Homo sapiens: one gene and its partner. The protein of the gene in region 1 interacts with the protein of each later gene in a pairwise test. Each region holds a gene or a part of one and is shown on either strand. Other genes may lie near its edges.

Region 1 (3,749 bases):
AAGTGCAGGAAAGGAGAATCTATTTTAACATTCTTCTTTAGTACAATGAATATGACATTGATACTGAGAAGGAAATGTTGGCTCTGCAGAAAACAGAAATTACATAGTAAAGTCTATGTATTGGTCTTAAACTTTTGAAATAAATCAATCTATAAAAAAGTAAGGAAGACTTATTGAGGGTTACAGAACAGAATATAAATGCCATATATCTTGAAAACATAAAAGTGACAGTACTTTTAACAGAATATGGAAGAAGGAAATAAGGAAAAGAAGTAAATGATAAGAACACCGATATCCACATCTTCGAAGTGGGGAATCAACAGATACTGTCTGTACCTTATGGAACAAGAAATAAAGATTAAAGTATTTGCTTAAAGTTATTAAGGTAATCAAGAGAGAAGCTAAAAATAGGGATATAACTCTATGGCAGTGTAAGGGAACTTAATCCCCACCTCTCATAATGAAGCTCCACAGATGTTTAAAGTTGATTAAAAATAGCATGCAATTGTCTTTGAAAAAGAAAAAAAAGAGAGAAATATGGAGATAACCACTGAAAACTAAATTCCAAAATGGTTAAAATGATTACTTCTAGGGAGCAGGACTGGTGATAGAGAGGAATCGGATAGATAATATTGCTTTTCATTATTAACCTCTTCTAAATTATTGATTTTTTAAACTAATATTATGCAGTATATATGTGTGTGAGACAGTCAAAGAAAGAGGAGAACTATATTACAGAAAAAAGTTTAAAATTTCAAGATTGATAAATAATTGGCATAGGCAGGAAATTGTTGAGAGAATCTCTAAGCAAGGCATGCCGAATTTACTCAGGAACAGAATGCGAGATCTCTTTGCTGTGAAGAAACCTTGGGATACATACACTGGTAATCCAACTTCCTGAGCATATTGCAACCAATTTACAATTTATTGTCTCTAATTTAAGAAAGTTTGAAGTTTTTGCTAAATACTCGAATAAAAATATTTTTGAATTCCCAAGTATCTACATGTATACATGTATTTTAGAAGACATGTAAAACAATTCATCCATTTGCTAATTCATTTCCTCATTTGCCATTAAATGTTGCTCATCCATCAGTTTTCCTATAACAACCAACTTCCCCTAGGGAAACACAAGTCAATAATGATATATTTCTTCCTCCAGCACAGGACTGCTCTCTACTCTGATTAGTACCATAATAGAAAAAAAGCACATAATGTGACAAGTGAGGTAAGCATAGAAAAGAATTGCAGAAGAATTGTTTCTTACTTCTGGGGAAATCTATCTTCCAGAGGAGCACAATTATATGAGTGACCATGAACACCCCGCAAAAAAACTTTTAAATTCTATTCCAGTTTGTTTGGACATTCCAACCAATACAGACACAGTATAGGTATCAGCAGCAATCTATTTACATGTGAAGAAGAAAGGAAAAATGTTTTTGAAAAATACTTACCATTGTCAAATACTTACCACACATAACCAAAGTTAGCGACTATCAGTTAAGAGTAGATTGCAGGGGGAAATTTTTTTTTCAGTGTGGCTCCAAATGATTAAAATCCCCAGTCAGCTGTAACCAAGTGAAATGTAATGTCAGCCTAGTTCTAATTTTAGTTCATGGACAAAGCTGAGAATAGAAAGAATCACATGAGGCTTCTTTGCGACGGATCAGCTGATAATGTATGTGAGTGCGTTCTGTGGACTGCAAAATACGCTACAGACATTATAAAACTATCAGGCATAACTATTTCTAAGATCTTGAAAAATAATGCCTATTCAAAGTCCTTCTACTTTTCACAGCTTAATCATTTCACAGAATTTCATGCATCTATTCCATCCAAGCAGAGAAACTTGGAATATGTTGATGTATGCCACAACAAAAATTCTACCCAGTAAACCATGGATCTGCAAATATTTGAACTAAAGACCCAGATGCTTTAGAAAAAGAAAAAATAAAGGTGTGGATAAGCATGAGTAACACAGAAGCCCCAAACTTCTGCTGTACCTGGGCTTCAAATTAAATTACCTCTCACTTTGATCTCTTCAGCTTTCATAGATAGGACTTAATTCCAGGTTCTTAAAAAATAAACTATATCTTTTTTTGAATTTATAATATATGCACATGGAACAGAATTCAAAAGCTCAATCTCCACTCTCTCCATCCCCCACCCCTTCCACCATCCCTGCCTCCAGTAGGGAGGTTCTCTTCAAGTTCTCTTCTCTGAAGGCAACCACTATTGCCAGTTCTTTGTGTACCTTTACAAAGATGGTCTATGAATTTACGAGCTTAAATATGCCTATATCCCTTAAAAGCACACATATGTGAAGGCATGCACACATACAAAAATGGTAGCATACTATATACATTGTTCTATACTGTCTTTTCTTCACTCAGGATATCTTGGAAACTGTTTCATATTAGTATATTTAGAGCAGCGTCATTCTTTTTAATGGCTACATAGCAGTTTAGCGTGTAGGTGGATCATAATTTATGTAGTCATTTGGACATCTCAGCAATATTAATGCTTTAAAAATTTATGCCTGATTATCTCACAGAAATTCTCCAACACTTCTATAATGAATTAAGTTCTAAGAGTTGTGGGACTGCTCAAGATCACAGAAAGAGTAAAGAAGCCATGGCCACAATTGAAACTCTAACTTCCCTGTCCCGAGAGTGTACACCACCCAACACATACAGAGTGCTTGCATGTGTTCATAAGTAAAAATCAAGATCTCACACCTGTAATCCCAGCACTTTGAGAGGCCAAGATGGTAGGATCACTTGAGCCCAGGAGCTGGAGACCAGCCTGAGCAACAGAGTGAGACCCTGTATCTACCAAAAAAAAAAAAAAAAAAAAAAAATTAAAGTAGCCAGGCATGGTGGCCCTGTCTCCATAAAAATAAAAATAAATAAAATAAAATAAAACTAGCCAGGTGTAGTGGTGTGTATATGTAGTCTCAGCTACTTGGGAGACTGAGGTGGGAGGATACCTTGAGCCAGGGAGGTCAAGCTGTGATGGTGCCACTGCACTCCAGCCTGGGCAACAGAGCCTTCCTTGTCTGAAGAAAAAAAAAAAAAAAGAGAGAGAGAGAGAGAGAGATCCAGGGAGTTTTGTTTCAGTTAAAAAGAACAGTATATTGTTACCTTGGAGAAAATTAAGATTTCTTTCTGCCTTTGGCACTACGTACAATTAAATTTTAATTTGACAGTATTTATAGAGAACCCACAAATTTCAAGGCATCTCTCTTCTCCTTCCCTTATCTACCTTTTATTTCCCATCCCCATGGAGTGACTTACACTAAAGAAATGCCCGGGAGGATAGGGAAAGTGAATAGATGCCTGAGCTATTTATGACACAAATTAGCCAGAATTTTGGTGACTTTGGAGGGATGTAGAAAGTGAATGCAAAGAGACAGGCACTATATAATGAATATCTATCTGTCATTTACGACTGTCCAAAATATTTTGAACACCATCCACATTTTTATAATCCCCCACATCATGAATCCTACCTTTCCAAGGTAGAATTTGAGGGGGAAAAGAAATCCCAGCCTCCCCTGCTACTGGAATGGGGTATGTGACTAATTTTATACACTACTAAGGTTCCACTAATTATATACACCAACAAAGGGCTCTGTTGGGTGACTTGTGTCGCTGGTGTCCATTTTTGCTGGCATGGGTAGCAGCAAAGGCAGTATGTTCTGGGGTTTGTTTTGGCAGCAAAAGTTGCCTAGCCTCAGCAGATGTAGC
Region 2 (3,749 bases), on another chromosome or scaffold:
GCTGTTATTTTCATTCCCACTGAGTGCCTAACAAGAAGAAAGGACTCATGGGATACAATGGACTTTTTGCCAGGGAGGACCATCTAACTAACCCTGATATCTGGGACTAGGGGAGGAAAGCCCTTGCCTGGGAGGCCTTTTCCCATGGTTTGCGCCTCCACTTGTGGAGGCTGCGTGAGGTTGTTGCCTCAGAGGATGGCTGTCTTGGGTCTGCTTGTACTGTTATGGGCTGGGGAGGAGGAAGGGCAGCAGGGAGGGGACACAGTACTTTTTCAGCCGCTCATCCAGCTGCTGCTTGTCATTCTCCAGGTCCATGATGCTCTCCTGGGTCAGCTTCAGGTCGCCCTCCAGCTTCCGCTTCGCTCGCTCCAGGTCCATGCGCACCTTCTTCTCTTGCTCCAGGGATCCTTCCAGCTGGTAGAGAGAAGGAGCCAGGCCCAGTGAGGCAAAGCATCCTGACTTGGTGATTTTGTTGTTCAGTTACCTCAGGACTTGGTAAATCTTTGTGTTCAGGACTTGGGAAACCTTCCCCAGAGTGGGCCAAATGTTATTAGGGGACTGTGAGATTGCCTAGATATAGGGGATGCTGAATCAATATTTTATAGATAAAGGAATAAATGACTGTGGGATGAAACCCCAAAGCCGTATTCTTTCTTTCTTTCCCTTTCTTTCTTTCTTTCTTTCTCTCCTTTCTTTCTCTCCTTCCTTCCTTCCTTCCTCCTTTTTTTTTTTTTTTTTTTTATGGAGTCTCACTCTGTCGCCAGGCTGGAGTGCAGTGGCGCGATCTCGGCTCACTGCAACCTCCGCCTCCCTGGTTCAAGGGATTATTCTGCCTCAGCCTCCTGAGTAGCTGGGACTACAGGCGCACGCCACCACATCCAGCTAATTTTTGTATTTTTAGTAGAGATGGGGTTTCACCATATTGGCCAGGATGGTCTCGATCTCTTGACCTCGTGATCCACCCGCCTTGGCCTCCCAAAGTGCTGGGATTACAGGTGTGAGCCACCGCGGCTGGCCGCCGTATTCATTCTTTCAGCATCCTATAAACACCTACTGGGCATCAGGCTCTGTGCTAAGCACTGCAGTCCCCAAATTGAATAGATCTAAGTTCCTATCTAAAGGAAGCTTGTAGTCTTATGGCTGAGATAGAAGCTTAAATAATTAAAATACAGAGTGATAAGTGAGTCAACAGACATATGTGCATCAGAGGGAACAATGATCAGATTCTGCCTTAAATATTGGAATTTCAAAAATTCTACTTGGGGAGCCTCACAAAATTTCCAAAGAAATTTATCATGTTCTTATGAGATGACCCTCTAAATCTTGTGTCAAAGGCAGAGATATATGGGATTGCACTTAAATTAAATAAGAAAACTCATCTCTATTATTGATCATACCAGTGAGATTAGATACATAATTCAGAATTGATCACCACCTCTGACTTTTCATTCCCCAGCTCCTTTCTAGAAAGATATCAGAAAAGTTAACATCCTCTAACCCTACCCCCCTCTAAACATAAACACAAACACACACACACACACACACACACACACACACACACACACACACACACACAGAGCTCTGGGCACAGATAGACATGGCATATCTAGGCCCCACAACTCTCAATCTACTCACATCATCCACTTGCTGCTCCAGCTTGACTTTGGCCTTAGTCAGGGTGTTGACCTTGTCCTCCTCGGCCTGAAGGTCATCCAGAGCCTGTTGGTGGGCCTCTTGCAGAGCTTTCTTCTCCTTGGTCAGCTTGGCAATGATCTCATCCAGCCCAGCCATCTCCTCTGTCAGGTTTTTCACCTGCCGACCAAGAATCCCATCTCCTTTAGGGTCAAAGGTCACCAGCTTGGTGCCATCTGTGGGGAGCTCCATGTCAAGGTCCATGCTGCTCTCTGGATGCCGAGTGGCTAGCCTGGGTCAAGGTCAGTATGGTCTGAGAGTCCTGATGAGACCCGGGCTGGAGCCAAAGGGAGCTGCCCTTACCTTGTTCTCTGTTGCGTGTTTCTCCTTCTCCACTTTGGCCAGTGTCAGCTCCAGATCATCGATGTCCCTTTTGAGCTCTGAGCACTCATCTTCCAGCTTGCGCTTCTTGGCAGTGAGCTCAGCATTCATCTCCTCCTCATCCTCCAGCCTCTCGTTCATCTCCTTCACCTTGGCCTCCAGCTGAATCTTGTTTTTGATCAGCTGATCACAGCGCTCCTCAGCATCTGCCAGGTTGTCTTGTTCCTGAAGGTGAGGAACAGAGGGGAGGCTGTTCAGGGGGTAAGGTCCTCATTCTTGCAGGTAGAGGGAAGGAGAGGCACATCACTCAAATAGGAGGGTAACTCTAGGATATCCCCACTTGGCAAGAGCTTCAGAAGTATGGGGAGGGGAAGAGTTTCAGGATAGTATAACTTGGGAACACTGGGGAGGGGAGCAGAGAGGAAAGGAACCAGAAATCTTCATCTGGACCTCTTCCTCTGGTCTCCTCCATCGAAGGGTGGGAATTGCATTTGCTGATGCCAAGCACTTATGTATGATGGCTTAATGAAATGGACAGCTTTATTCCCTGTCTAGAGGAAATTGAGGCTCAAAGATGATGCATGGTCTGCCCAAGGTCACAAAATAATTAAGCTGTGTATCTAGGTTGAACCCAAGTAGAAAGCCTGTGCTTTTAAAAGTCAGCTCTTTTCCCTCTGCCCTTTCCTCCTCCTGAGGGACCTCTTTGGAGGTCTTTAGAAGTGTTGATCCCAGAGTCCTCTGACTGAAGGAACAAGACAGTGAGCCCCTGTGCAGGGAGGTGCAGGGTTGTGGGAAGTGAAGGCAGAGCAGGGTGGAAGAGCCAACAGTAGCCCAGGAGCCTCACCGCCTGCACTTGGAGCTGCAGGTCATTCTTCTCCTGCAGCAGGGACACCATCTTCTCCTCCAGCTCCTTGCGGCGAGCCTCGGACTTCTCTAGCGCCTCTTTGAGGCGTGTGAACTCCTCCTTCATGGAGGCCATCTCCTTCTCTCTTTCTGCACTCTTCAGCAGCGGCTTGATCTTGAAGTAGAGCTTCATCCAGGGCCAATTCTTGACCCCCATGAAGGCCCGAATGTTCCACTGGATTACCAGCAGGGAGTCTCTGCAGGGGCCCATTGAAAGGAGTGCTGAGCCTCCTGCCTCCTTCCTACCTGAGGTCCTGAAACCTTGGGAATATCCCATTTCCTTCATCCCTCCCACCCTTCCTGAGGCCTCTGACCCTGTGACTGCAGTGTGTTCATATGAGCCCCTCCTGCAGGTCTCTGTGTTTGAAGATCTGCTGAGCTTTTTTTCCTGACACTGCCCCTGAACCAGCCTGGGCCTCAGAGAAGCGGGAAACCTCCTCTTGAGATCTCTCACCTACGTTCCAGCAGCTTTTTGTACTCCATTCTGGCGAGCACACCTCGGGACTGGGCCTGGATACGCGTGATGATGCGGCTCAGCCTCTCGTCCCTCATTTCCTCCAGCAGCCCCAGCAGCCCGGCCTTGAAGAACACCTGCAGGCAAGGTGTGTGTTGGCCATGACTAGGGAGGGGTACGAGGGAAAGAGATGGTGGGGATTACCTTAGGAAGGGTAACAGCCTAGAAAAGGATTGCAGGGAGGAGGTCAATGGCAGCTGGAGCTGGGATGAGGGGAGTGGTGCTAGATGTTCCACTGGGAGGGGTAGCATACAGGTAAGAGATTTTGCTAAGATGATTACAACAGGAAAAGCATCAGAGGAGTCAATGGAAAAGAGAT

What was found. Proteins that work in one complex are often made in the same cells at the same time.
Region 2: the proteins of LRRC39 (region 1) and MYH7 interact in binary tests that used the Homo sapiens proteins (3 or more experiments, as listed by UniProt).

Annotation. Positions count from the first base shown.
Region 1 is NC_000001.11:100,176,664-100,180,412, forward strand, and holds the start of LRRC39 (leucine-rich repeat-containing protein 39), read right to left. Parts: upstream 1,594-3,749; 5' UTR 1,472-1,593; exon of another isoform or gene 1,455-1,471; intron 1-1,454. UniProt on the Homo sapiens protein: Component of the sarcomeric M-band which plays a role in myocyte response to biomechanical stress. May regulate expression of other M-band proteins via an SRF-dependent pathway. Important for normal contractile function in heart.
Region 2 is NC_000014.9:23,421,912-23,425,660, forward strand, and holds part of MYH7 (myosin-7), read right to left. Parts: intron 3,508-3,749; coding exon 3,371-3,507; intron 3,114-3,370; coding exon 2,858-3,113; intron 2,239-2,857; coding exon 1,996-2,238; intron 1,813-1,995; coding exon 1,636-1,812; intron 415-1,635; coding exon 269-414; intron 1-268. UniProt on the Homo sapiens protein: Myosins are actin-based motor molecules with ATPase activity essential for muscle contraction. Forms regular bipolar thick filaments that, together with actin thin filaments, constitute the fundamental contractile unit of skeletal and cardiac muscle.